Linked DNA regions of Homo sapiens: region 1 is linked to region 2. Evidence: fine-mapped expression QTL. A gene starts in region 2. The other region holds a variant in brackets. All regions are shown on one strand. Distances are between the middles of the regions. Region 1 has its middle 31 kb from the start of TGFBI. Region 2 holds the start of TGFBI (transforming growth factor beta induced).

Region 1 (15,253 bases), 27 kb after region 2:
ATCCAAGAATTACAGAACTTCTGAAGAAAGAAACCCACTCAAGTGGGAAGAAAGCAATAATCAAAGATATCATTAGAGAAAACAGCCCTTAGTATGCAAATCGAAATGGCCCATAGCATTCTAAAAAAAATAAATTTAAAGGGGGCTGTCTAGAAAAGAGTTCACCGAGCAGGCCTGAAGACTGCAATACTTAGAAAGGCCTGCTACTAAACACCTGCTCTCTTGGAATTTTAGTTCATGCTAGACAGAAGGACCTACATGATCATGATCAGACCCCAGTAAAAAAAACTTGTGTAATGGGTCTCTGATGGGCTTCCCTAGACAGATACATCATGCATACGTTGTTTCATTTTTCTCACTGGTGAAGAGTAAGCTGTGCGTGACTCCTAATGGGTGAGAGAGAGCATGAGGAAACCTGCACATGAATTCCTCCAGACTGCCTGTGCCTTTTCCCTTCATGAGCCACTCATATATCCTTACAACACTGCTGTAATAAATCTTGGCTATGAGTACACTTTAAGCTGAGTACACTTTAAGCTGAGTTTTGTGAGTCATTTTAGTGGGTTTCCAAACAGCGATGGACCTGTGGCCTAGGGGATCCCTGACAGAGAGGCCTCACTGTGTCACAGGGGCTAAAACACATTCTAGCAACATATTTGAATTATAAGACTAATTTGTTTTCATGTCATGAGCATTGAGGGAAAAAAAATACCTCTTTCAAAGTTTACAAAATTGGTTGGCTTCAGACTTGTCCTTTGCCACCCTGTATAGAGCAGGCTTTAGAAAGTTTTGAAGGAAGAAAGTTAGGATCCAGTAATTTTGCAGCCTTATGAAGGCAACAGACAGACATTCTTAGACATTCAAGGACTTGAAATAGACTTATACTAGTGACTGAGGTAATAAACTTGAAGAACACAGGCCGGGCGCAGTGGCTCACGCCTGTAATCCCAGCACTTTGGGAGGCTGAGGCAGGTGGATCACCAGGTCACAAGATCGAGACCATCCTGGCTAACACCGTGAAACCCCATCTCTACTAAAAATACAAAAAAAAATTAGCCTGGCCTGGTGGCGGGCACCTGTAGTCCCAGCTACTTGGGACGCTGAGGCAGGAGAATGGCGTGAACCCGGGAGGCAGAGCTTGCAGTGAGCCGAGATCACGCCACTGTGCTCCAGCCTGGGCAACAGAGCGAGACTCTGTCTCAAAAAAACAAAAACGAAAACAAAAAACAACAACAACAAAAAGGGAATTCTGGATATGCAGCTCTTCTTTTATGGAGCATAGATCCCAAATTCAAAAGTCCAGTTGGACTGTGTTATCAGAGAATTCTGAGATTTTATGCTTAGCCCTTTGCTATTTCCCTAAGCTGTCCTTGGCTTCTGAAATTTTATAAGAAGACCAAGAAATTAATTTCTTATGCCATATCTTTCACCCTACAATTTAGGAAGTATCACCTGCAATGACGGATGGCCACCAAAGCTATTACGCAGTGTAGGTCTTTCTTAATGATTGTTAAACATAAAGGATGATGAGACCTATGGGTCTCAATTTGTAGGAGTACCTGTGTTGAGGATTGTGGCATTGAGGATTACTGTATTGAGCAAGATTCTGAGCCCCTTCTGAGCTCTGCGGGAGAGAATGCAGGGGTCAGTGAGTGACACCCAACCTGGGGAAAAAGGGAGCAGGGTGGTACATTCATTTCTTACCTGCTATTCTTGATGTATATATTCAGAAGATTGTGGTTTAAAAATTAATAAACAAAAATGACCAAAAATGAATATAAATACTTTCTGTAATTGTTGTGCTAGAAAATAAAATAACCGCAACTTCAATTTTAAACAATAGGACAATATCTGTATTTAATGCTAAGGTTTACTTAATATTTTAGGTAAGACAGAAAAAAAACTTTAAAAAATAAAATACTGTAGGAAGAAAGTACCAAGAAAAAGATTGATAGATTAGCTGCATAGCATTTTTGAACCTCTATTTCACAAAAATACAAAACATCATAAGCAAGATAAGAAGGCAGATAACAAACCGAGAGACATGTTTGCAACACAGGTGGCAAAGGATCAACATCCTTAATGTAAAAGGCTTTTGCAAATCAACGTAAAAATAAATTACCTAATAAATTACATTGTGTGAAGAGCATGAACATTGAGTTTACAGAAGGTTAAGTTAAAATTGACAATGAATGAAAAAGTTTCCTATTTGGATCACTAAAAAAAATGAAAGGTATAAAAAGGAATCATGCATTTAAAAAAATCTTCTTTGCTATTTTCGTAAATGAAAGATTATAATGCTTAGTGTTGCAAAGAGTAAAACTTTTCTTAAAGGCAATTTCCCTCATCTTTCAAAACTTCTTAAAGTATCATGCATGTCTATTAGCTCAAATTCCACTACTGGCAAATCAATGGATATAGCCTTAAGGGTATCTGTATTGAATGATCATCTCAGCATTATAATGACAACATTTGGAACAACCCAAAGTCAGGGGATTGGCTAAACAGGTTCAGCTAAATCTATGTAATGAGATATACGCAGCTGTTAAAATCATGCATACAGGACTATTGGTTGAATAGTCCCCATCTACTGCTTAGTGAAAAACAGGACACAAACTGCCTTGCATTTCATGTATAGTGTGTACGGTGGAGGTAGTTATGAGCTGTGAAATTTGGAGTTACCCAACCTGCAACTGAGTCCTGAGTCCTGGTCCCACCACACCTTCCTGGGTGATCTTGAGCGGAGCTCCTGCCCCTCTTAACTGCAGTGTCTTCATTTGTAAAAATGCTGTTAATGAAATTATTTACTCATAGGGTTGTACTATATGCAACCTGAAATTATCCCCTGCGAAGTACTTAGAATACTGCCTAACTCAGCAGCGTGCATTAGGTCCCGATATTTTTTTTTAATGATGCTAAAAAATAATCAAGAAAAATAGACCACTGACAGAACACATCAAAAAAAAATCTTGATAATGGGGCTGTTACTTTTTGCTTCTTTTCATTCTTCTAGGTTTTCTGCATTAAACGTAGAATACATTTACACTGTTCATAACACACACACAGGCAGACACACACAGACACACACACAGTAAATATCGACTTTACTAGGAGGTTACTATGAGTCTTGGGAAAACAGCTGAAATCCATCTTTCTAGAAAGAAAAGGAAGAAGAAACGGCCAAATGAGGGGGAAACCACCCCCACACTCTAGGAAACACAAGCTCCCCAGCCTCTTGGCCTTCAAGGCAGAGGAGGGCCACTCCCCAGCCTGCCAGCCAGCAGGCCATGGGGTCACCCTGTGGGGCCACACCCCATGCAGGCTGCATACTGCCCCATTGTCTAAGCATGGCCCCACTGAAGTCAACGAGAAACAGATGGTGAGAAACATTTCTGCTCTTCCACACCTAGGATGCGGTTCTGCTCTGAGCATCCAGCACCAGTGAGGCAATCTGCTTTTCATTTATGGGCAGAGAAAAGCCACAGAGGAAGGAATGAGGGAGGCCATAGTTCTCAGAGTGTCGGAGGAGTTGATGCAATAATAATTCAATTCCCCCTACTCTGAAAAGCAAGGCAGTCCAACCCGGCAGGATGCCTGCAGCCAGGGCTGTAAACTCCAGCTCACCTCAGGCTACCTCCAGCTGAGCAAGCCCACACCAGAACCTGTGGGCCTGAACTCTTGCAGGGGAAGAGTTCAAACAGGGCCTTTTCCAGTTTGCATCATGTGGCAGAGCCCTGTAGCCAATCAGCTGGAAGCGAGTTCCAGGTAGGTGGGATGGGAAGGATCTGGACTGGGGGGCCTCCTCACAAGGGAATCATCATGGACACTGGCAACTAGGGGGTAGCTCCTCTGGCCAGTGTAGTTCTTTCTTCCCTTTGCCTGGGTAGAAGCATGGACTTTGAAGCCAGCTGTCTGGGACCCTATCCCAGTTCTCTGCTTACTTGCTGTGTACCTTAGGTGAACTGCTTTAACTTTCTGAGCCCCTGCTTCCTCATCCGAATTGTGGGCATGAGACTAGTGTTACCCAACAGGAAATATGAAGACTGCAGGAGATAATCCATAGGAAGTGTCTACGCTGTGCTTGGGTCATGGAAAGTGCTCATTAACTGTTAGTTATTATTATTATTATAATTGCCAGATTCTCTCTGTGTCTTATTTCCTCTTTAAACCATGGCATAATTTACACTATGACACGCTCTTGTGCATAATTTCTTCTCATAGTCCTAACCAGTTGTAGTCTCTGCTTGAGGGTGATCTATGCCTGTGTACCCTCTATCGGTCCCCCTGGCAGTCACCATCCCTCTGGACAAAAATTTGCGTGGTCTTTGGAATGAGTCTGGGTAATTGAGTGGCAGCCAACCTCTGCCAGCATCCTCCCTCATCGGGAGACTGTGGAGCAGGGGCAATGGTCTCCTGAGCCAAAGAACAGCTTGCAGATGGCCCCAGTGAGAAGTGCCACTCTGAAGCCCTAAAAGATGATAAGGGAGAGTAGGAGAAGCAAGCCCAGAGAAGAAAGAAAGTGGAGAATGGTCCCCAGAGGAAGGGAGGCAAACAGGGAGCAACAGTTACACAGGTGACTGCAATGTGAGAAGCATCCAAGAACGGACAGAGTTTCAAAATGCTCAGGAAAAAGCAAGGTGCAGTCTTCTGGATGTGGTGGCAGAAAAGACCCCAAGAGAAAGACATCATCAACATAAAAGCCTGGAAAAAATAGGGATCATAAAGATGCCTGTGTGACTGACAAACAAATTAGAGGTGTAGGAAAAGAAAAGAGCGGGAATGGCAGGTTGCAGGTAATTGAGATTTTTCAGAACAAGATGACAAGTAAACTACATCAAAGCATGTCCAAGTCAGGTTTGACTGGCAGTTTTCCCTGAATGTGCTAATTACTCTTATTTGTTCTCAAACAAAAATTATTTATTTATCATGAGGGCTGAGGGCCCAGGGTGTGGGAGAGCATCTTCTCTCAGCAAGCAGGTGAGTAGCTCAGTTTGAATGACGGAAGATACATGACTATAGAGCAACACAGTCACTTTTCATCAAGATTGAACCCTATGGCTATATCTTTGAGAAGCCACTGCATCAAAGACCTGGCTCAGATAAGAGTTTCCGGAGAAAAAGAGAAGGTGGCAGCCAGAATAACTGTGATACTGTCCTTTTTGTACCAGCCAGGATAGGCTAGGTGATGCTGCAGTAACAAACAATCCTAAATCTTAGGGGCTTTAAACAACAAAGATTTATTTCTGTCATCTGTGCCACAAGTCCATTTCGGGTTGGCTGGAGTTCTGTTCTGCATCCCTTCAGGGACCCAGGATAATGAAGCAGCCACCGTCTCAAACTGCTAGTCACTATAGCAGAGGACAAGGGAGTTGAGACAACACACACACTCACACACACACACACACACACACACACACACGGGCTCTTAAAACTTCAGCTCAGAATGATAGACATCATCCCTGCTCAGATTTCACCAGCCACAGTCAGGCACATGCCTATACTGAATTGCAAAGGGGATGGGGAAGTAAAATCCCACTTCCGCTGCTCAGAAGAAGAAACAGAATGTATGTGAACAGCCCTAATGACTCACCAAACATCCATTCCAGGAGCAGGCCTCCCTGCCCGTTACTCAGCTGCCCCTCCCTTGGCCTGC[G/A]ACCCCTTCAGTGGTTCTCAGTCATCTCTGCCCCTGTCCCCATCACTATCTTCAAGGCACATTTTGGATGAGATGATTGGGCATAGTGCTTCCAAATGGACTCTAATCATAAAATGAAGGAGAACACAGACTCAGAGTATTGGTGCAGAGCAGAATCTCTGAGAGGACCTAGCCCACAGCCCCTGCCTTTCTAGATGGAGAAATAGGAAGTCAAAGGAAAAACCATGTGCAATGCGCAGAATTCTAAGATGGGTCCTAAGATTCCTGGTCCCTGCTGTGCAGGCATCATCTCCTCCCTTTGAGTGTAAGTGGGACCCGTAAATAAGACTGGCTGTCACTCCAGTGACATGTTACTTTGTATGGCAAAAGGGACTTTGCAGATGTAATTCAGGCACTCTCCTGCTGGCCTGAAGGAAAGTAAACAGCCATGCTGTGAACTTCCCGTGGAGGGGACCTGCACGGCCCTCTAGGACCTGAGCGCAGCCCCTAGATTGGCTAGAAAATGGGACCTCAGCCCTACAACTGCAGGAACTGAATTCTGATTACCGGGAACCCTGAGCTCCAAATGAAAACATAGCCCTGGTTAACACTTTGATTTCAGCCTGATGAGATTGTGAGCTGAGAACCCATCTCCTCTATGTCCAGACTCCTGACCCATGGAAACTGTGAGATTAAACAAAAAAAGCCACTGTATTGTTTTAAGCCACTAAGTTGAAGGTAATTTGTTACCCAGCAATAAAAACAAGTATGTGAAAATGGGAGACTGTGTAGCAGGGCCATGGTCTCCTGAGCCGAAGAACAGCTTGCAGATGGCCCCAGTGAGAAGTGCCACTCTGAAGCCCTAAAAGATGATAAGGGAGAGTACGAGAGACAAACACCTCTAATTTGTTTGTCAGTCACACTGGCATCTTTATGATCCCTATTTTTTCCAGGCTTTTATGTTGATGATGTCTTTCTCTTGGGGTTTTTCTGCCGCCACATCCAGAAGACCGCACCTTGCTTTTTCCTGAGCATTTTGAAACACTGTCTATTCTTGGATGGCTTCTTACATTGCAGTCACCTGCGTAGCTGTTGCTCCCTGTTTGCCTCCCTTCCTCTGGGGACCATTCTCCACTTTCTTTCTCCTCTGGGCTTGCTTCTCCTACTCTCCCTTGTCATCTTTTAGGGCTTCAGAGTGGCACTCATCATGGCAGTGGCAGGTCCTGCAATTTGAGCAGTATTCAAGGCCTTTTCGTGATTTCTGTCCCACTTGCTGAACACAAACTCTCTATTCCAGGTCTGGCGGCATCTTTGCAGCCTCTCACCTGCCAGGATTGCTCCCCCTGTGGTCTTCCTCTGCCTGCTTCCCAGGGCAGGGCTCCATCCAGCGTCATTTGATGGAGCTTTCACATGCCATTCCCCAATAAAATAAAATGCCCTGAAGTGACCCCGGCCCCCTGTACTCTTCCATTCTCTGCCGGTTCCATAGCATCCAGCACAACTACAAGCCTCCCTGCAGTTGATTATATCCCAATCATATCCAATAATAAAATTCCACGAGGATTAAATCATTTAAATTGTCTCTTTTTGCCAAGACTTTAAGCTCTCTAAGGGCAACAGACGTGTTTACTCCAGGTGCTACATCAGGAATCAGAAAAGGCATTTGTACTTGTAATACACCAAACTGGAAACAGCCCAAATGTCTATCACTGAGTGAAGAGAGAAACAAATTATCTTATTTCCATACAATGAGATACTGCTCAGCTAAAAAAAAGAACAAATTATCCATAACATGCTATAACATGGGTGAATCTCAAAATCGTAGGCTGAGTGTAAGATATAAATGATATCTACTGTATGATAATTTACATAAAAATCTAGACAAAGCAAAACTCATCTATATTGACAGGAAGCAGGTGGGTGTTTGCTCATGGCTGGGGTTGGGGGGATAATGGCAAACGTTGCATTCTGGGGTGATGGAGATGTTCTGTGTCTTGATTGTCGTGGCGGCTATGTGGATGTACACGTTTGTCACAACTCATCAGATTGTATACTTAAAATATATACATTTTATTACACATAAATTATGCCTCAATAAAGTTGACTTGGAAAAAAATCTTTGTATATTCTGAGTCAGCTAAAGCTTTGTTGGAAATGCTTTGAGACATGATTTCTCATGTCTCATGATTTCTCAACATGATTTGAGAAGGGTGAGCCCAAGAAAACATCTACAGACTTCTGTTTAGGTAGAGCCATCTCCCAGAGACAGATGAGCTCCCAGGCTGAGAGCAAAGATATGCCTCAAAAGGTAAGTTAACCGACTTAAAGAGAGATTGCTTGGCCAGAAAAACCCAGAAAAAGAACAGAGAGGATGGCAAAAAGGACCCATGTATTCAGGCGGAAAGGCCTAGATTGGGGGGTTCAAGGATAGTCTGGCTGTGAGCTCTCCCCATGCTGTGTGGTGGGGTGGAGCTCTTTCAGCGGTCTCACCATGGCCCAGAGAAAGAGCTTTTGGGACCAGCCACACTGCTTTGCTCTGAATCCACAGCCACTCCACTGGCCACCAGCCTGATTAACTTCTAGGGAAGCCGGGTCCTGGGAAGAAGGCATGAAGTTTCTAACAAATATGAAGGCATCATCATCTGGATGAAGTGTCAGAGGACCATAGTCCAGGCAATGCTGCCTGCTGTGGCTTTTGATTAGTCAGGCATGACCCATTCCTCCCACTGTCACTCAAGACACTGCCCGGAGAGACAGGCACAGCCAGGGCAGCAGCCAGAATGCTGAGGATTTTGTGGGTTACCTAAAGCTGTGGAGAAGCCAGCAGGGCTCCAGACCTGGAGAGAGCCCCATAAAAAGAAAACATTCCCTTCTTTGGTAGAAAAGAAATGATACCCGAGCAGCTAGCAACCCTGACTGTGCAGAGGCAAAAACCAAGTTCTGAGGTAGGAAAAGAAAGTGTTTGTGTGAAAAGCCCGGGGGCTTGGAAGAGCCTCGGAAATGAAACAGGAAAGGAGGGAAGAGAACAGGAAAGCTCAGCTGGCTGCTGTGGGGCTCAGTGGCGAGGCATGAGCAGCAGCAGAGGCTGAAAGGGGCAGAGAGGGTGCTCACAAGGAAAGGCAAGGGGAGGAGAGCTCTGCAGTCTTAATGGGGGCATGGGGGTTGTGTGTACAATGGCTGCAGGGTGGACCCTCCTCTTGACCAAACCCCAAGTGCCCTCCGTCCCCCTGAATTCCAAGCATGATTATCAGCACTACTTTCCACTGGAGTCACCCAGCCCAACACTTGTGCGCACTGCCCTGACTCCAGCACTCCATAACCCAGCCGTCTAGACTCTGCAGTCTTCTGGCCCTAAGTCAGGGGTTGTCCACTCCTCTCTGGGGAGATGACTAGAACCTCTTAATTAGCTTCTCTCCCTCCCCACTTGTTAAACCTTATCAGCAGGTACTCCATCATGGAGAAGGAAACCAGTGCATGTTAAGCATTTATTATCCTAGGCATTTTAATTATAATTCTCATAACAGCCAGATGAAGAAGGCAGCACTATCTCCATCTTATGAAGAACCCGAGGCTCACAAGGGTTTAGTGATTTCCCCAAATTCAAACAGCTAGGAAGGGGCCAGCCGAACCAGGATCTCAACTTTCTTTCATCCACTGCTCCCACGTGGATCTTAAATACAAATCCATTCAATTCATTTCCCTGGTTAAAATCCTTCAGTGTCTTCCCACCGCTTACAGACATGTTTCTTTCAATATTTTTTGTCCTTATAGAACTACTTTCTAAAAAAAAAACACTTGTTTTACTTTATTTGTGCTAATATAACAAAACACCACAAGCTAGGTAATTTATAAACAATAGAAATGTATTTCTCACAGCTCTGGAGGCTGGGAAGTCCAAGATCAAGGTGCTGGTAGGTTTGGTATCTGGTGAGGGCTGTTCCCCACTCCCAAGATGGTGCCTTGAGCACTGCATCTTCCAGAGGCGAGGTATGCTATCTTTGCATGGCAGAAGGCGGAAGGGCAAAAGGGGCAAACTCCTTCTGCCAAGCCCTTTTATAAGGGTATCTAATCTTATTCATGAAGGCAGAGCCCTCGTGACTTAATCACCTCCCAAAGGCATACCTCCCAATACTGTTGCATTGGGGATTATGTTTCAACATAGATTTTGGAAGGAACAAAAACATTCAAACCACAGCAAATCTTTACATGAAATGCTACCCTATCACACAGAAAACAGCAGAGCTGACCCAGTGTGAGTGGGGGTAAGGCACAGCATCCTGTCTCTACTTTCATAGTTGACATGTCCACTTGAAGTTTCAGCACCATGTCAGTTTGTTTAAGGTTGAACTCTTGATCTAACTCCCAGTATCTCCCAGAGTTTTCTATCTTAAAGAATGGTTGGACCATCCATTCCAGAGCCTGTGAGCCACCTCTCTCACCATCTTCACCCTCATCCTCCTTAAGTACATTCAATTTTGCCTTCTACATCTCCCTTGAAGAAGACTTTGTCCTTCATTTGCACTTTCATCACCCAAGCATCCAAATCCAAGCTCTTACAGCCTCTTACCTAGAATAGGGGCACAGCCTCCTTACTTGCACCACAGAGCCCTGGCAGTCCACCCCCAACACAGTACTCAGACTGTGCTGACAGAAAATTCCCAGCAAAAGGAGAGGGCCACTCTGACATGGAATGTCCTGACATCCAAGTGTCATTATCATTTAGCAACCTCCCCCATCAAATACGACAGTATTTCCTCTTACTTATTATTTTATTAAAAAATGTTATAACTTTGAGATGAAACTATGCACTAAAAAGTAAGCTAAGGGTCAAAAGAATTGAGGGCTGGTTGTTTGAGTTGCTGTGGGGCCACTGAGTTTCCCCAGCTATAGAGCAGAGTTAGTTACTAGAATCTGCTTCTTCTCTCTTGCCCACAGTTGTTATGGAAATAACTTATGTAAAATGTTCAGAATTAATTACAATGAACATATACAACTAAAGCACTCTTATGTCTCACTGACATGAAATAATAAATTTGGATATATGGACATCTGGTTGACAATGTGACATTCCAAGATCTAAAACAAATTTGATGATGTAATTAAATACCAATCTTTCTACTTTTACTTGTATATAGGACAAGATCCCTCGCAGAACCTATTTATATGTATACTTGGAGCTGGCCTCATGGTCACATAAATCATAGGAAAATTTGGAGCAGATGTTGCAGGGTAGCTGGAATTCTCCTGTTAGGACTGCGTTTTAATGGAAAAATGACACAGAGCAGACTTCCCACATGCTTCACAGATAGAGTAATAGAGCTACTTGAAAGGAACATTTATATTCTAGATAGGCTGATTTTTAATCAACAAACGTGATTGCTTTATTATTGTCTGGTCTCGGATGAGTCATTCAGCAGAGTGCACAGGCATTTCCGGACAGGAGGGGAATGGGCCACAAGGGAGAAAGCTTTACAGTACCTTGTATGTCTGTCTGTCTGTCAGTGTGGCCTTGAGCTCTTTCTCCTCTTGCTGGTAGTAGAGATCTTCCCTGGGGCCTTTGACAGTGGCCTCCCATGGGCTTGCAGCCTCAGAAACTTTTATTTGCGAGGAAAGGGGTAAATGTGAGCTAAACCTGAAATCCCACGAATTACAGAAAAGAACTTGTTGGCAGCACACACGCAAAGATTTTCGAAATCCTCTGTTTCGCTGGTGTTTATGCATTTGAGCCTGTTTCATCTGAAGTCATTGTTTTGAGCCTTGTTTGGAAGAATTTTCCAGACATGATTTTCTAGGGAGGAAGAATGTCATTCAGAAGACAAAGGCCTGTGCTTCTGAGATAAAGTAGGTGATGTTCTGCTTCAGATGGCCTCTGGCTCCCTGGCTTTTATCCTCCCTTTCATGTTACCAAGTAGAGCTTCAAGAGCCGTAGTCCAGATTTTCTTCTGCTTCTTCTTTTGTAACTTGGAAAATGAAGACGTAGAACTAGAGTGTTCATTGTGGGAGGTCTAGTGGATAAATGGATGAGAAATGACTTAAGCCAAACAATGACTCAATTAGATTTTCTGACATAGTATCAGTTTGTTTAACCCTGCTGATCCAATGAGGTTAGGTGTTCTGAATAACTGAGAAGGGTGTTCTGACATAGAATCAGGTTGTTTAACCCTGCTGGTCTCAGTGAGGTTAGGTGTTCTGAATAACTGAAAACACCTCCTTAGTCGGGCAGCCATCTTTGATTTCAGGGGAGGTTTGGGGTGGGTGCTCCGAAGAACAGGGACTGTACCAAGTGCCCCCTGAGTGTGTGTGGGGCTTGAGGAAGGGGGAGACACAGAAGACACGCTTCTCTTCCTGCTCTGAGCCCAAGGGTGCAGAAGGCCCCGCCATTGGTGTTCATCAGGAGAAAGGCAGCGGCAGCCCCAACTCCTGGCTTACACTGCCTCAGAGTAGCAGGGGTTCAGTGTGGCGGAGTGAATGATAAGATGAAGAAGAATGACAAGCATGCCTTGAATCGGACAATCACTTTTCTCGTTGAGGTAATTACAAGAATCATGAAAAGCAGGTTAGATATTATCAACTAGTTTTATACAGAGAGACTTGTGCATGATTCAAAAGAGTCAGTGCCAAAGCTAGACCATGTTGCCTTTGTCATTTAGATGGATCGCTTACTGCATTTACCATTGGAAGCTGGTTGGCCTACATGCTTCTGCATCCTAGGAAGCTCCCACACTTAGATCCTCTGAGGTATCTTCATAGCTTTGCAGTACATGATTCCTAGATAGACAAGTTTGGAGCAACCGATAACCCCTATGTCAAAGCTGAATTTGTTTAGATATATTTTATGTACATCAAAATGGAATTTACAATACATGTCAAAACCAGAGGGAAAACCAGTGGCTGTGATCTGAATTTGTTTCCCCAATGTGATAGTACTAGTAGATGGGGCCTTTGGGAGGTGATTAGGTCATGAAGGTGGAGCCCTTGTGAATGAGAAAAGAGGCCCAAGGAAACTTGCTTGCCCCTTCCACCACATGAGGACACAGCAAGAAGGCTCCATTCTATGAACAAGGAGGTGAGCCCTCACCAGACAGTGAATCTGCCAGCACCTGGATCTTGAACTCCCTAGCCTCCAGAACTGTGAGAAATAAAATTTCTGTTATTTGAAAGTCACCAGTTTATGGCTTATGGCATTTTGTTATAGCAGCACAAACAGACTAAGATACCAGTCCTTCTGTTTTCTGCCAGAAAATTGCACCACACTATTGCTTTTAATCTTTTTTCTTGGGCCAAGTTTAGACAAGAGGCATCAACTCTAGGTAATTCTGAATGCAGCAAGACATACAGAGACACCTGCTGCTGGAAACACTGGGAACTTCACTGAAGAGCAGGAGGGCCAAGGACTCAACTCTTTATAAATACTAATTGCATTAAGTAAGCATTTTTGGATTTCACATGTTTATAGCTTAAAATACTTGCAGAACTTGCAAGAAAAACAACAATAAAAATGAAATATTTGATGAACTAGATATTACCAAGGGGCACCTTACTGCAGGGAAACGGTGTGTAGACTTGTTCTAAATGAAATTTGACGTTGTCATGAGTTATGGATACACCTCAAAATCATGTGAGAGTGTGATAATTATCCCGGTCTGAGAAAGCCTGCTTCACTATTGCCATAAAGTTCAAGGCACAAAGTGCATGAGTATTATTTTTGCCTTGCAGTCAACCAGCGGAAAATACTGGTTTTGAACTTGGAGCTACCAAAGTGTACCTCTAAGTTACTTTTTGATTATCTCAGCATAAATTTTCTTCACATGTTTGCTAAACAGGGCAATATTGCCATGGATACCTTCCACCATCCCATAGCTTCCCTGACACATTCTGGCACTTACTCTCAAAGCTACCACGTATGACACTGATTGAACACATCAGCATGTCATTTGTTCTCAGCGCGGATGGGAAATCCGGAGAAAAGGCTGCCTAAAAACATAATGCAGAGAGAGGAAACATAAAGTGGAGAAGCCTGGGAGGGGTGGAGACACAATCGGCCTTAGAAAACAGCTGGGGGGTACTGAACTCTTTCCTAGCTCCGGGAGCCTCCATATTCAGGCTAGAAAAGGTGAGGTGATACAACGTGGGGCAGAGGGCAGAGAGGGAGGAGACTGTGGCACACACAGAAGGTGGGGGCAGCTCTCCTTGCACCTGGACTGGCACTAAGAGCCAGCAGCCTCGTCACCCCAAGGCGCCACTTTCAGGGGGCTGCTGAGCAGCCTTTGGTGTCTTCACACACCGGTGTTGTGCTGAATGACAATATCTTCTCTGCGCTCACTTTGGAGGCCTCTTTGGGAACTGACAATTCTGAATTGTGCGTTTGGCTGCTGAGAGAGGCTGTCAGGACTCCAGATATCTGTCTGATGCTCCCTGCCCGACTGTGACGGAGAGACTACAAGGGAGTGCAGCACAGGGGCGACAAGTGCTCCTGGGGATTTGCTGCCTGCATGGCCTCCCTAAAGCCCCTGCCATCTGCCCACTGCTCTCCACTTCCGCTGCCAGGCTGAGCCCAGCCGCGGATTCCCAAACGCCCCTCATGGCCCTTCCTTGGCCCTGATTCACCAGTCTCCCTTCTCTTCTCCTCACTGCGGCTGCAGTGGCTTCACTCCGCCCATACGCCTTCAGTGGGTTCCCCTTTTATTCTAAGACAGAATTCAGCATTTTTCCTACGCTGTGTGCAGTCCTACGGGGTGGGCTTCTCTGCTCTTCCCCACCCCTGGCCCCACCTCCGGCTCCTCTGACGCCACATTTTCTGCTCTGTCTCAGTCCCTCGGGGCACACTGGCTGTCTTCTTGCAGGGCCGTGGTGCCTGCTGCGCCCTGTGCCTGGACTGCCTGGCTCTCCTTTCCCCTGGCGCTGCTCCAGCACCCTCAGCACCTCCAGCACCCCCAGCACCTCCAGCACCTCCAGCACCCTCAGCACCTCCAGCGCCCCAGCCCGTCTTTCAGATCTTGGCTCAGGCATCACTTCTTCAGAGAAGCCTTCCCTGACCCTTGGCCTAGGCCAGGTCCCCTCATTATGCGCTAAGATAGAACCACCTTCTTTTTCTTTATGGTACTTCCCCAAGTTCCTAACGGAGACATTAAGCACATAATCACACTGCTGAGTCCAGGGCTCTTGGCCTGGAACCTAAGCTCCACAAGGGAAGGGCAGGTGCTGCTGTTGAGTAACCACTTAATCCTCAGCTCCTAGCACAGGGCCTGGCACAGAGCAGGGGCTTAATAAATATTCGCATTTTCTCAACTATGCCCTCTAACTTAGTTAGATACCAACTTCTCAACCTCCACAACCAGCTGTGATGAGCAGTTCACTTTTACTTGCATTATCCTTTTCTTTCTTCTTTTATATTTAACCTCCAAAAAGCTGACTTCATCAAAACCTAAATAAATGCTTTCTTTTATAAACGACTCTCCTTAATGATAAATCATGCATAGAGCAAGGAATAGGAAAATGTAACGTGCTTTTATTTCTTTATCTCTATTTGCCACCGTGAATTGACAACAATTTCTGGGCAACTCTCAACCACTTGGTGACGCCAGATCATAGAGAATTCAAAAGGGGCCAAGGTCAGAAACC
Region 2 (15,253 bases):
TTTGTTCAACAGGTGAAAGTGAGTGGGCCCAGGAGGGACAATGAGCATTAATGAATCCATGTAAGGATCTAGGGACAAGAGAAGTGAAGGCTGGAGAAGGGACCACAGCCAGCAGAGGCCCATGCCTCCCTAGTCCTAGCTGGGCCTGACCAAATCCTCCAGATTTCTGAATACCTGGTTTCTGTTTGCTGCCTAGGATTCACAGGTTAGACAGTCCCTGAATAACCCCTGAAGAGTCCTTGCTGGCCATACTCCAGCCCCCGGTCCTATTTATTGTTACAGAATCCCAGAAGCTCTTCAATCTGATCAAGCAGGAAACAATTACTGTCAATGAATTCCCTGCCACTTTCCGTAGGCGTTTGGCGAATCTTCAGTGAGTCTCTTGTGGATGTGGCTCCAACATTCCTTTGCTGAATGTTTCCACTGCTGCTGTCCTTGTGGCAGCAGCAGAGGCTGGGGGCGGCTGTGACCCTCTCCTTCTCACATCGGGGAGTGTGGGTGGGCTGTGTACATAGGAAGTTCATGCTGAAGCTTAATTGAAATGAGCAAGTTGCTTCTGGGCCTCAAGAATAACAGCATTGATGTTCAGCTTAGATTTGAAAACCAAGTGCTTCAGGAAATTCAGTTCAGTTTTTGGTGGTTGATGTTTGGAAGTGTGATTGTATTTTTACTTCTCTTTCAGTATTATTTTTCCCCTTCCCTATAGCAACACAGATATAGCTGGGAGTCAAGAGACCATATCATAGTTATTACTCTCCCAACAGCATTCTGTGTCTGAACTAAGTCACTCTCTACCTCACTAAGCTGCAGTTTCACCTCCTGTAAAATGGGAACATGAACAGTAGATCTCACTGTGTTGTGGTGAGGTCGAAAGCAAAAGCGGCAATCGAGTGCTGCGCACAAGCAAGGCACAGCTGTTATTTCTTCCTTCATATCAGGCAGCACGCTACAATTCCTTAAAATAGCAAAGTTTTCCTTCCCTTTCTAACAGTTTTCACTTTGAATGAAAGGCTGGAGCTAGAACAACGTTATCCATTTGCACAAGGCGCCACAGCCCTGTGTGCCAGGCCAGGCAGCCCTGTGGCATTAACAGGGACAGTTAGATCAGAGTAAATACAACTGTGCCTGCAACCATTTTGCCATGGTTCATGTGCCTGCGCATCCAGATTCTACTGGGACAGGGGTGCTCCTGTGACTTCTTAGATTACTCTGCCCATCACAGATTACAATAGGCCTTTCCAGCTGTGCTGCAGGAAGCTAATTAAGAGGCTTTGCCTGCAGGGGTATGGTGGGGAAGTTGATCTAATATCTGGAACTCATAATCAAGAGCATCTGCATTTAAGAAAAAAACCCTGTTTTCCAGCTGGTCAGCACTCTTCTGGGCTCTGAAGGGAAAGAGGTTTGCTGTAAAGATGGCTCTTGATGGAAAGCCCTCAATACCTTTGAGGATCCTTCACTGTGGCTGTGCAGAGAGATGCCCTTACAGGTGACACTGTTGCAGGGCATGCTATAAGGATCTTCTCCTGACTTAGTGGCGAAGATACAGAAGAAATAGAACCCTCCTAGGCAAATTGAGGCACCCAAACATAACACAATTCATTGGCAGGAAAGGCAGAGAGACCAACGGAGAGGTGGGCAGAGATAATAAAAATGCCAGGTGCTTGCATTTTGATGTTGAGGCCTCATATCCCTCTCATCTTTCTGACATCCCCCCTCACTCTATTCTGCACACTGCCCAAGTCAAAGCTGATTCTCCCACTTCCAGAAAGACCCCAGGATATCCCCAGTATTCTCCTCTTTCCAGGAGGGTGTTGAGGTTGCAGCCAGGCCTGGTTTGATTTCACTCTGCAGGGTGGCCAGATGTGCTCCCAGCAGGCCCTCTCCGCCAGAGCCCCAAACTCCTGAAAGGCCTAGACCATAAAGCCACAAGTAGAGGAAACAAGAGCAACTATGCCCTACAAGGGGCAGCCTGTACCCGTACCCAGAGCACTCCTAGTGCAAGGAGCCAAGACTTTCAGGGCCTGTGAAGTCAACTCTATCACCCCCAACAATGAGTTTTGATTTGAGCACAGATCTGCCCAGTCTCTTGGAGGTTTGGGCATTGCTTGTGGGTGTGAACGCCAGACCCCGATGGTATTTAGGCTTCCTCTGAGGAGTCACTACAAGATTCTACTCATATATAGTTTTACCTAGTTATGAAAAAGAAGTTGGTGCAACCAGGTAGGCTGGAAGCTGCAGCAAAGCCTGGGTATTTGTGACGCAGGTATGGCCTGGTTTTTGAGGTAGAAATGTTGCCTGCCTCTGCCTGGGTCAGTATTAGGGCCACTATCAGACCAGACCTTCTGCTTGAGTTTGTCTCCTAAAGCCAACACATCTTCAGGGTCTCAAAGGAATTCCTGCAATGATAGTGTCCTACATTTACAAACCCAGCTATTACTTTAAGACAGACTCCAATCCTGGCTCCAGTGCACACTTCAGGACTGTGGGAAAGTGGAACCACTCAGGACTCAGTTTCCCCATTTGAACAGTGTGTGTGAGGGCCCAGTGCATTCTCCTGCTCTTCATCGGGCAGGACAAGAAGTGCCACATTGCCCTTGCTGTACCCAGAGAGCAGTGTCGGGTGCCAGCAGTGTCTGAGTGCAGGGCCTGGCCAGGAGCACAGGAGCCTGGGGCACCTTAGATGCTGCCACCGTGTGTGGCCCAGGTTCTTGTCTGGAGTCGCTGGCCGGGGGCCTGGCTGGGTTGGAATAGGTGTACTGCTGGGTGGGCTTTGCCCTTGGCACCCTCCCACGGTGATTATGGCCAAAGAGTTGCCATTTCCCCCTTTCTGCAGTGGCTGGGAGGAGAAGCTGAAAGCGCTGTCCGTCTCAGGCTCTTGGCCTGCGTCGAAAGTCTCTGGTCCACTTCCCCACTCCCTTCTACAAAGCGGCGGCCTCCCGCTTTCCCTCCATGGTCCTCCACCTCCCTCCCTCTCTCCTTCCACCGCGTGCAGGGCTGGTGTCCGAGCGCTCCATGCTGCAAGGTTTTTAGTTCGGGCTTTGTCCCCTGCGCCCCCAGCCCAGTTCAATGCCCCCAGCGGCTTGCGCTCCGAGCCCCGACTACCTGACCTTCCGCAGCCCCTGGCCAGGCGGCTCGGCTTACCCGTGCTGGCGGCCCCGGAGCCTGCTGTGCTGCAGCACCAGCTGGTAGGGCGACTTGGCGGGACCCGCCAGGGTCGCGGCGGGGCCCAGGGCCAGAGCCAGGGCGAGAGCCAGCAGCCGCACGAAGAGCGCCATGGAGCGGGACGACGCGCACCGAGCGAGCTAGCGACCGACGGGCAAGCGGGCGGCTCCAGGGAAGTGAGAGCGCCTCCGCCGCCCGGGCCAGGTTAAGTAAGCTGCGAGCGGGAGGGAGCGGACGCCAGGGGCGGGGAAGCTGGGCCGGCCCGTGCAAGGAGGGCGGGCCGCCTGGCGCCTCCCAACCCGTGCGCCCCTGGCTGCCCTGGGCACCCACCCGCTCCCGCACTGTGCCCGTGCTCAGTTTTCCCAGCCCTTGCCCTCACTGCCAGCCCTCCCTCCCTCTCTCCCTCGCCACAGTCTTCCTCAAACCAAGGGTATAGGTCCCTTAGGCCTCCTGTGGCTGCTTCCAAATGGGGACCTTGGGACTGAGGGACAGCTGTCTCGGGGGCTTCGGTCCTGCATGCTGGGGGCCCGAAGATTCCCTCACTGATCTTGAGGCTACAAAACACTGCAGGGAGGGGTGAGGGGAGGCAGTGCTGATTCCCAGAACACCATGGCCCATCAGACTTGTTTCTGCACCCCAGGAGCTGACCACCCTCCCCAGCTCCTCAATCTCTAATCCCTCCACCCCCACCCCACCTGTCATGCTCATTGAAAGACAGATGAGTAAATCGTGTGATCCACAGAAACGCCAAAAATGTGGGGCAGGTTTTGTTGGGCTCTAAGCTGCTTTTGGAGCCCGTGGGGAAGGGTGGGGTCCTCACCTTGGTACTAATTCATTCCCTTCTTCAGTAAACATCTCTGCAACAGTACCTGCCAGATAGATTCTGCAAAGGCAAGAGTCCTGCCCTGGAGGAGCTCAAGGCAGGTAAACAAATTGTCACATGGTAAAGAGGTGATACTTACCCAAGCATCTATTAATCACCTGTCAGTTACTTGGCACTGCTAGCCCTGGGGAGACACAGATGGATTAATAGAATGAGTGAGACCTAAGCCCTTTGTGAAAAAGCTCCAATTTGGGAAGATCCGTAGCCCAAGCCAATGATGTTCCATGAAGAGTAGCTGGGGCTTTGGGAGCTAAGAAGAGGCACCTGGCCCTGACAGGGTGATACCTGCTCTGAGGCCTGAAAGATGAAAATGAGTTAATCAGGTAAACTGAGGCATGCATTCACGAAACTCAAGTTATCTGGTTGGCTGAAGCACAGGGAGGTGGAGTCAAGGGTAGGGAAGAAGGGGAGGAAGGTAGCAGGGCCCAGACTCCAGCTAAGAGCCTAGCGGGTGATGGGTGGAGGCAAGTGACATGGCCAGTGTCATGAGAGGCTTAAGGAGGCAAGAAGAACAGGTAACCAGGAAGGGACCATGGGAGAGCTTGAACTATGGTGGTAGAGGCAGAGATGGGGAAGGCTGGGCAAATGTGAGGGGTGTAGGAGGTAATAGTCTCAATAGAATTTGGAGTCTGTATACAGGGAGAAGGGGAGAAAGGAGAGTCAAGGATATTGTAGGGTGTTTGTGGTCTGGACATTGCAGCAGGTGATGGTGCCATGTTCAGAATGAGGCACATGCAGAGTGCAGGCTTGCCAGGTAGATGAGTGGTTTGGGACACCCTGAGTCTGAGGTGCTTATGACTCATCCTGGTGAAGCATCCCATGAGGATAAAGCTGGATATGAGGATCGGGGGCTTGAGTGAGGGACGCGGGATGAAGATTCACACCTGGGAGTCATCCTCCAGTGACAGAAGAGCCCAGGAAGTAGAGAATGTGGGGTTGTAGTCAAGGAGGGGTATCCTAGTAGGAGGGCGCTGCTCAAAGTGAGGAATGCTGCCAACAAGACAGATCTGAATGGCTTTCACTGTGTCAGAAGCAGAGAGGCCACTGGGGACTTGGCTGTGGAGAGCAGATGGCCAAAGCCCGAATATGGTGGTTTGATGGAGAGATGAGTAGCATGTAGAAGCTTGTCTGAGAAGGGAAGGGGCGAGTTAGGATGGCAGCCAGGGAAAGAAAAAGACAAGCGGGGCTTGGAGAGGTTAGAACTCTGGTAGAAAGAAGGTGGGAAGGAGAAGGGAGAGAGTGTGGGCACTGGAGGAGGGCCTACTGAGAGCATAAAGCAACTGAGGGCCTGCATGGGGAGTGATCAAGCTAGTGGAGAGGAGGGAACAGGTGTATGGGAGATTTTAGTGGTAGCATTGATTAGACTTGGAAACCCCTTGGGCATGCAGGGTTAGGGAGGGGGAGTAGAGCTAACCTCGAGGCTCATAGCTGGCAGGAAGGGATGCCTGTGCTGGGCACGCTGGTGAAGGTGCACATTTGGGTGTGTGAGGAGAGTGCTCCATTTGTGTTCACATTATGTGTGAACAAGCCACCTGCATTTCCAGGAGGGATGGACAGGAGGGAGCTATATTCAAAGGTCTTGAGCTCAGGATAGGTATGAGGATTGGAGATGCAGATTTGAGTCACCACTACGAGCAGGTGGTAGCTAAAGTCATGCACTGGATGAGCTTCCTTGGGAGCAGGTGTTGGAAGAGAGGAGGAGGAGGAAGGAGAAGAAAAGGAGAAGATGGGTTCAAATACCAGTCTTTCTACTTCCTAGCTGTGTGGTCTTGGGCAAGTTATTCAACCTCATAGAGAGGATAATAAAACCTACCTCACAGGACTCTAAACTAGATTACATGATACAATTCAAGTAAAATGGCCAATAAATATGCATTGCTATTATTATTATTACCTCTCCCCAGTCATTGTTCTATATAGTAGGGTTCAATGAAACAATATGATAGTTTTGAGCAACTACAGAAATAATTATCTGAAAATGCTCATTTCATTTATTGAAAGCAAAACATTTCTCGGTTTCAGCATGACTGCTTGGCATAGGATAATGGGAAGAACCCAAAGGGATTCAAGCTCAGGCTGACTCCCAGAACAAGTTTCCCCTGAGACCAGTAGAATTTGGCTGCATTGCAGTTTCTAGGAAAAATGCTCCTTGTATGTAAGAGGCCAGGAGCCCTGCCATCTGGTTCCAGCTCTCTCTCTAGCAAGATTTAGGGCAAGTCAAGCAAGTTCACTGGACCTCACTTCTCCAGTCTGCAAAACTAACATTCGATGACTTGAGTTTTTCCATGAGCTCAGTAAAGAGATTGCAGTAATACTTTATTTATGGTTTAGATATTTTTTTAAAATCCCACATCCATGCCCCACCACCCATCCCCTCTTTCAAACATGAAAAGCAGAATGCTGTGAGTATAACCATTCTCCCACCTGAGGTTGCTGCTTCTTTGGAGACAAGAGTGATGCTGCTGGAGGTAAGAGCAGGGACCCTCCATCCCCAGATGACCCAGAGCCAACCAGGCAAACACAGAGCACCAGAAACCCTGTCATTTGAGAAAGAATTTTTTCCTTCCAGATTAAACAATCTAAACAGGAGAAAGTGAGGCTTGCTTGGAAGAATCTTTACTAGACTTTTTCAAGCACTTTTTAAAAAATGACTGCTTTTACATTTTGTGGCACATGAAAGGTCACCAAAAACATTCAGGTTTTGAAAATAATACTGTAGGGTATGACAACAAGCTTTATGCATCATGATAAATTAGTAGTTCCAACAAGTTCTTCACAAAGGAACCTAGGAAAGAAACTGGTTCTGGGCCTGTTGGTGGGAGAGCTGGCATCTGCAGCCCAGCTGACACCAGGCCTGCCTTTTCCTTACTCCCTAAAGTTCCTGGTGATGCTTGGGCATACATGGAGACAGAAGATACAGTCAAAATCATTTTCAGAGGCCACCATATAGCTAAATAAAGAGCTCTTAAAATTCAGCTCCCCAAGACTTGCTAGGGAGAAAAAAAGGTGAGTTTTGGCAAGAGATATCCAAATGAAAAGATGTGAATCAAATTTTGGGGAAAATTGCCATCCCTTGTGTAACACACAGAACTTAGAATGGTACTTCATATACAGTAATTGTTTTTTCCATGTTACAAATAAAGGTAAGAAACATCTCAGTTTACTAACATTAAGGTGTGATTGTAGTACCATTTAGGGGATTTTGGATTGATTTCTCAAGGATTTTCCACAGTCTTGCCACTCAAAATGTGATCTGCAAAACAGCATCATCAGCACAACCCCAGAGTTCATTAGAAATGTGGAAAATTTAAAAATTTTTTATTTATTTATTTATTTTTTCTAGCTCTCATGAAGAAACGTGGAATCTTATAACCTCCCAACCTCCCAAGACCCACTGAATCTGCATTTTCACCAGATCCCAAGGTGATTTGTATGCACAGGACTACAGGGTCATGTTAAATAGCTATGAGCTCAGAGGTGGTTAACAGAGGATTCAATTTATGTAGGCATGGAAGAAACGAAATACACCTGAAAATGTGTACCAGTGAAGTGACCACAGAGGAACTCTCATCTTCCGCTGAGGCCCAGCTCACTTTGTGGAAGACCTTCAAGATGCCCAGGCACAAGGTCAGTAGTTGCATATTCAGTGTCTTCCACACACTGGACAGGGAGGGGAAATTGGCCACAGTCACCTTCCATTCTTCTCTCTTTTCAAAGCCCGCAAGGGAGGCTGGGATAATCGACAGGTTTGTAATGGCAGGAACTTAAAACAAACTTGAGGCTTCGGGCTCTGCAATTGATGGGAACAGAACAGCCGTCGCAGCCCTAGAATGGCATTAGGCCCCAGTGTTTAGTTTCTTAAATGACTTGGCTGTTTTCACAACTTCTCCAAACACTGGCTTTCTTAATCAGGGCCTGCCAAATGCTACTTGTTGGTTAGAACCCAATTTCATTTTCCAGGGAAACCGATTTTTCATGAGAGTTTCATTGATTTGGCTCAGCTAAAATATCTAAGAAGAATCCAGAGGCACTTTTGAGGTTGCTTTAGTTGCCTGACCTCAAATACTTTAGTGGAAGGATGCCCACAGATGATTGTTGGCTTACACATGCCTTTCCTCTGCTTCCCACGAGTTTTCTTGCACGTAGGATAAAGGCCTTCAGGGAAATGGACACCACCCAGCAGCAATTCATTCCAAAATGCAGAAATCCCTTGGCTCTTTCGTCCAGCTCCCCTTCTTCATTTCTTCATTCTTGCCTGTGGTGCCGCTCAAGGTTGGAAACCTTGCATTCAGTTTTGCCTGTCCCTGCTCTCTGGTCCCCCACGTGCAATCAGTCACCAAGATCCTGCAGGTGTTCTTTCCAAATCTCTCCTAGATGCTTCTGTTCCCTCTTTTGCTACTCAAATACTCCAGCTCCCCACTGCCTTACCTCTCACCACCCACAGCCTCCAGCCAGTCTGACATCAGCTGCCACCCCAGCCAACCATCTCCCAACGTGGCTGGTCTTATCTTCCTAAAACACTTCTACCAAAACACTGCACTCCTAGGACACTCCCGATGGCTTCTATTGTTTGTAAAAGAAAATCCAGACTTCTCTGATTGTTTATTTATTTTTTTGATGAACATTTTATCCTCCCCAGCACCCCACCATGTTAAAAAGGAATACAGGCACATTACCAAAAAAAGAAAAACCTTAAAAAATACTGAAAAGGCTAGATAAGAGGAACACACACATCCATAATCCCTATACTGAAAGAACTTCCCATGTATTGCCCTCTTTCTACTGTACCTGGCTTCTAAAGTCCTCTGCAAAATTCCCCCTTTGCTTCATGTAACCTGCTTTCCCTGTGTCCCAGTCTCAGCCTGGGCTCTTGCAGGGCCAGCCTGTGCCTCTTCCACCCACTCAGCCCCCCACCCCCAGCCTTGCTCTGCTCCCCGTGTAGTGAGCACTGTGCTCCTTCTTTGCCTCTACACACGTATGCGATACTCTCCCTCCAAAACCAGCTTTGCTAAGAAGCTTTGCTCAGGCAAATTCCTTCACCTCTCTGGGCTGCTGTTTTTTCAGCTGGTCTCCCTTCCGTGGCTCTCCCACTGGATGGAGCCTCTCCTTTTTGAAGTCTAACATCCGTCATCACAGTGAGCCCATGTGTTTGTTCCTCTGATTCTCTAACAGCCTCCTAATAAGTCAGCACGGAGCCCAGTTAGCATTTGCGGATCCATCAGTTGACTGGCTTCCTAAATTCTTTCTAGCATAATTCACACTTATTCTAATAGAGTGGTCAGAATAGACAAAGACATTTGTTGGCTCTGCTGTAGGTGACTGCTCCACCATATGCTGTGGACTAGACTCATTTGCGTGGCCCTCTGGGTCAGGCAGGGATTCTGAAGGGCTTTAAAGAACATCGGACCTGGCTCCCTCTCCAGCTTCCCTAGCACAGGCCTTAAGTCCCAGCACGAAGGAGAAGGATCGAGCTTCTCTGGGGCCGGTGCTCCCAACATCACATCCTGATCCTTTGGAAGCTCCCTCATGCTAGGTGAAAGAAAGTCTCTGCTTCCCCAGCTGCAATGTTGTGCCAGCATTAGAAGGTAGAAAGGGGAAGCAGGGTTGATGCAGCCATGACTGATGGCTCCACAGCAGCCATCCTGAGAGCCATTTTCAAAATTCCTAAGAATTTGCTGCTATCCTGACCCGATCCACCCTACTCCAAAACACCCTGGACATTCAAATCCATGGTATAGAAATTAATTTGTGCAGGCTAAAGAGCTGGTGAGATGAGAGCCACCATATTTTGCCTGCTGGTTTTAACATTTTAGAACTTGCTCATTGTCCAGATCAGCACCTTTGCCCTGGCATGAAAGGACAAAAATTAAACCCCATGTAGAGTGCCCCATGATACCCACCCCAGACTTCTCTGGACCCTCCACTGCCCCTCATCTAACGATTGGGCACTGGGCCCAGTGGCAGGCCAGCCATAACACACCCTTCCCCAGTCTTTCCCAGCATTTTCTTCCTCAGTCTTCCATCCATGGGACTCCTCATATTTCACTGGGACAGGAATGGGGTGAATGCTGTGCTCTACATAAACCACATAGTGCTCTGTAGTTAAGATACAAATGTTTAGAATGATTTCTGCTTCTAAAGACAACAAAAGCAAGAATTAGCCTCCAAGCTTCCTCCAGATGAGGCTATGTTTAGGAAAGGCTATACGTTTGAGAATGATGCAGGGAAGAAAGCAGAAGGAAAAAAAAAAACAGTAGGAAAAAAAAAACAGTGCATGCATGTGCCCACGTAGAATACTGGCTTATTAAAGAAAAATAAGAGTTTACCAATGTCAGGTACTATTCTCAATACCTTTATGTGTTAAGTCATTCCATCCTTAAAATACTCTTATGGGTTGAGTACTGTTCTCTTTTCTGTTTTCCAGATGAAGAAGGCAAGGCTGGAGAGGTGAAGAAGTTTGTTGGAGTGGTGACAAAGCTAGTGGGTAGGAGAGCCAGCACTTGAACACAGGCAGCCCAGCCCTAAGTACTTGTCCTACCTAAACCACTATGCACCCCCTCCCCAGCTAGGGTAGTTGCATATTTTTGGAAAATCCTTGATATGGTTTGGCTGCGTCCCCACCCAAATCCCATCTTGAACTGTAGCTCCCATAATTCCCACGTGTTGTGGGAGGGACCGGGTGGGAGATAATCGAATCATGGTGGTACCTTCCCCCATACTGTTCTCGTGGTAATGAATAACTCTCATGAGATCTGATGATTTTATAAGGGGAAATCTCTTTTGCTTGGCTCACATTCTCTCTTGTCTGCCACCGTGTAAGACATGCATTTCACCTTCCACCATGATTGTGAGGCCTCCCCAGCCACGTGGAACTGTGAGTCCATTAAACCTCTTTTTCTGTATAAATTACCCAGTCTCAGGTATGTCTTTAACAGCAGCATGAAAACGAACTAATACAACCTTCAAACCTTCTCCCTTGAACACATTTTCACTGAGCAAGACTCTAGCAGCTGCTGTGGTAAGTGAGGCAGGCTTGGGGAAGAAAGCAGCCAGCACGCAGCCACTCATCCCCTTCTCCAGACAGACAGGGGACCTGAGCTGCTGGATCACTCTCTAGATGACCATGAATCAGCATTCCTTTCAGTGGATCAACTAGAATTGCTTAGTAATCCTCAACAACCTTTAATTCCTCATTTAATTACTGATGAAATAGCAATTAAATGTGCCTGAGAAATCTTCAAACTCGTGGCACGGTCATTTCAATGAACATTTGATACACCAAAATCCCAGGACAACAAAAAAATTAAAATGACCTCCAGGGTGCCTAGAAAAGATTTTCCCACGTTAGTTAGCACATTCCTGAAGTAACAGTCTAACCAGAAGTTCAGTTAGTCCTGTTATTCTACATTATTTTTAAAAACTACTACTGACAACATATGAACAACCAGCTTGCTCCAGAAAGTGGTTCTTGATCGATTCTACCAATATTTACTGAGTTCATGTTAGGAGCCCAGCAGTCGGCTGCTTATTACGGTTCTAGACACAAGTGAGTCATTCTTTGGTGGGGAGCCAGGCACATATACAATGAAATAAGTGCCAAATGCATGGCTATACCCAAAAGGACTCCAAAGGGAAGTACCCAACCACACACCACACAACGGGGGTGGGAGGGTAGCAAGGATTGGCGGGGGGAGTTTGGGGTAGCCGGAGGGAAACCAGATTCTTCCCAGAAGGGATGATTCATCATCTGGTGGACAGTGAAGCCAAGTCATCAAGGTAGACTGCAACTCATCAAAACAGAAACCGGAGACGGGGTTAGTACTAGAGACAGGATTGCTGGTCTGAATTTCTGGTTCTTGTTAGCGCTTTACAATTCCTGAGACATATATAAGCCTGAAAGAAATGCTTTCCTCTGTATTCACTCTTAATGGCCACGTTTATTCCTCCCTCTATTGTAGAGAGATCTACTAAATATCTTATGACTTGATTTGGTCCTTCTCAAAGATAGGTTCAAGTCTTCTCTGTGGGCACTTTTCAAACTCCAAAACCAATAAGCCTCAAGGTAGGCCCCTAGCCCTTGTGGAGTCTATTTATACCTTTGGGGCACGATCAGCAACTAACATCACATAGCACTGGTGCTACACAAACATAATTCAGGTTCCTTCTTAAATTTCTAGTTACTTACAGTGAAGGAGGCAAGGAAGGGCAACAAGTGTGTATCTGTGTGTGTGGGTCTGTGTGATGTGCAAATAACAGACTCCTCTATCTGTGTGTCCAGATCCAATAAGTACAAATTCTATCAAGCCCTTGAGACTGACAGGACAGAGTTCTGCCAAGCTGAGGAGGGGCACAGAGCTCAAGACAAAGCTTAAAAAGGCTTGGCTCAGTGATTAAAGTACAACACAATAAGCAACTTTAAAATGTGTTTATTTAGATACAAACTCCATCCAAGACCCCATAAGTTAGACCTTGGCCTGTTTTCGTGAAGTGGTGTGACGGCAGTGGCCTTTTAAAAATTTAGTTTCTGTAACTTACTCTGGGGACATAGGTTGATCACTCTAAATCAGTATGTTAATAAATAGAGCAGCAGAAAGGAAGGCTGCAGGGTCATGAGACCCAGGCTTGCATGCCTCTTCTTTCTTGATAACTGTTTCCAGATGTGGGTGTTGGCACAGTATCAGCTTGATGACAAAAACGAATGAAAGTCCTTTCTCCCCAGCTAACAGCAGGCGGCTACTGGTTCCGGCAGAAGGCCTGCTTGTGTTTTCCTTTCAGAGGTCTCACGTGGCTGAAAGCATTTGCCTCTTGCTGAATGTTTACCTGGCATACGCTAGGAACAGCAAATGACACAAGAACCTCAGTGCAAGATGTCTCTTGAAGAAGAAGGTGGTAGAAAAGTGCATACATCTAATAATCCTAAACAACAGGGAAAGACACGGCTGGATTTGGGGTAAAAACATCTCATCACCAAGGAAATGATATGCAGGAAGTCGTCAGCTCAGGGTCCTATTCTTATCATAGATGAAATGGTTGCTTCCGCTAGTGTTCTGGAGGGGAGAGGTGAGAGAAGATTGTTCCTGACTTCAGGGTGCCTAAGAGGAGTCACATACGCATGACACAAAACAGACATATTAAAGGACTCACTAAGGACAGTTGGGTCTGCTTTCAGTAGAGAAAAGATGTGCACTTAGGAAGTGGTAGTTTCTGGCATGGTTCAACTGGCCTGTCTCCATGTGTGTGGAATCTCACCTTTGACCTCAGACCTTGGTCACGTACCAGGCAGGCTGCATGTTGCCCAAGGCTTGGAGACCAGGCTAGCTGAGCTCAGACTTCTCACATTCTGCTTCCATCCTCCTTTGACTTTTGGGAAAGTCTCCTCCTGCTGATTTTCATTTGCTGGCCAACCCGCTTGCCACAAACCAGGGAAAATCAGCTCTGAATTTTGAAAACTGGAAACATAAATTCATTTGGCATAAACACAGCTTTCTCCAGCAGACACACAGGAAGTAAGCTTACCTATGTATGCGATGGTATCATGGACCACCTTAGAGCCTATCATAACTAGCGTTCAGTTGGTGTGGATGGTGTAAGAATAAATTTCATTGCTCTCTAGGACACAAGGAGCACTTAACTTATGGATTTCCGGGAAAAGTTTCCAGCTAGGAATGCTCTAAAAGATTACCAAAAATCTTTGTTTTCATGCCTCAAAAGAAATATCCGATCTCAGCTGGTTTTGACTTGTTGGTGACCACAGCTTATTTCCCAGTGTCATTTGCACGAGTCAATTTTGTGGACTTGATCAGAAAGCCTTGAAGGGTGTGAGAAGAGGAGAACAGATGGCTAGCAAGGGCCACTTTGGGACAGCAAGAAAGGCCGAGTCCATCTACTGGTGACTGGATCTGACCTGTCCATGATAGAGCCAGAGTCTGAATGGACAATCCTGCTCTCTCATCCCTCCTGCCAACCCTGTGCCTTTCCTTGGTCTTGGACAGGAAATGCAGAATGAGACAAGCCATCCATTGCCATTCATCCATCCCACAGGATCAGAGCCCCAGCCCCAAGGCCACTGGTTATGAATATCCCTTGCAGGTGAAATGCTCCTATTAATACATAACCCTGAGTTTGGGATAATGCATGAAAAGATATTTCAGAGCATGGCTTCCTGTAGATACATGTCTTAAGGGCCAGTAGGTGGATTCTGTTAGCCCCTTTCTGGCCAGAAGGGATTCTATACAGTGCTGCCCAGGCCCAGGGAATGTATGAAATGAGCTCCAAGGAAGCTTCGGAGAGGTCTCCTTTTCTAGTAAGTTCCACACCCACTAAGCATTTATTAAAGTGTCAGCTGTGGATATTGCATAGTCAAGCAAATACAGGGTAAACACAAAAGATGTAGAAGGTCCTTCATGTCTTCCAGAAGCACACCATTGTCTGTGAAGGCCAAGGAAAGGCAAGAAATCAAGTTCAAGACTGGAAAACATACATTTTTATAGCCAATTTACTAAAATATTTTCAGTTCTCTGAACCTAGCATGCTTTTTTTCCACCTCCAAACCTGTGAACACAGACCTTTATTCTTGCTGTCTGGCTTCCATGTGTCCATGAGATTTTAATTTAGACCACACTTTCTCTGGGAGGCCTTCCTTGATGCCTTCAGCCTGGGTAGGTGCCCTTTCTGTGGGCTTTTACTGGCTCCTTTTCTTCTCCCACCATAGCATCTATCAGTGACATGTCTGTTTTCTCTACCAGACGGCAAGTTTGATGAGGGCAGGGATAATGCCTGCCTTCTTCACTACCCCATTCCCGGTATTCATTCATTCATTGGTTAATTAACTATGGAGTGCCTGGCATGAGCCAGTCAAATGATGAAAGAGAAAGGTCACTGTGAAGCTGTATTAGTCAGGGAAGGCAACTTGGGGGAGGTGCATTTTGAGATGTTCTTTGAGGAAGTTGAAAAGGGAAAACAATGGGAGGCATGAAACTTGGGGGCCTCATGCTACCCCCTCCCTCTCCACAAGATGTCTAGGCTTCCATGGGAATCAAATCTGGGAACCATTACTAAGGGGAAGGGCACTCACATTCATGGAGCTCTTACCACATGCCAAGATTTGCCAGACGCCAACCACATTAATAATACTTGCCATTCACCCTGAGTTGGCTGCAGGCCAGGCCACTTCTTGGGCTGTCTCATTTGATCTTTTCAACAACCCTG

The links.
Region 1: its variant is fine-mapped to the expression of TGFBI in whole blood (TOPMed, PIP above 0.99).

The regions. Positions count from the first base shown.
Region 1 is chr5:135,989,874-136,005,126 of GRCh38, reverse strand. No RefSeq gene overlaps it. Among named protein-coding and RNA genes, the nearest start is that of TGFBI, 31 kb to the left of the region's middle. RefSeq lists an enhancer at 3,260-3,761. The variant G/A (reference allele first, on the strand shown) is at 5,654.
Region 2 is chr5:136,017,078-136,032,330 of GRCh38, reverse strand. TGFBI (transforming growth factor beta induced) reads right to left here and starts at 3,343. Exons shown (of 17, transcript NM_000358.3): 1 at 3,142-3,343. The coding sequence starts at 3,275. It overlaps LOC105379189 (a long non-coding RNA gene), which reads left to right and starts at 6,438. Exons shown (of 4, transcript XR_948809.3): 1 at 6,438-6,513; 2 at 7,389-7,468; 3 at 7,552-7,672; 4 at 10,470-10,773. RefSeq lists an enhancer at 1,057-1,126.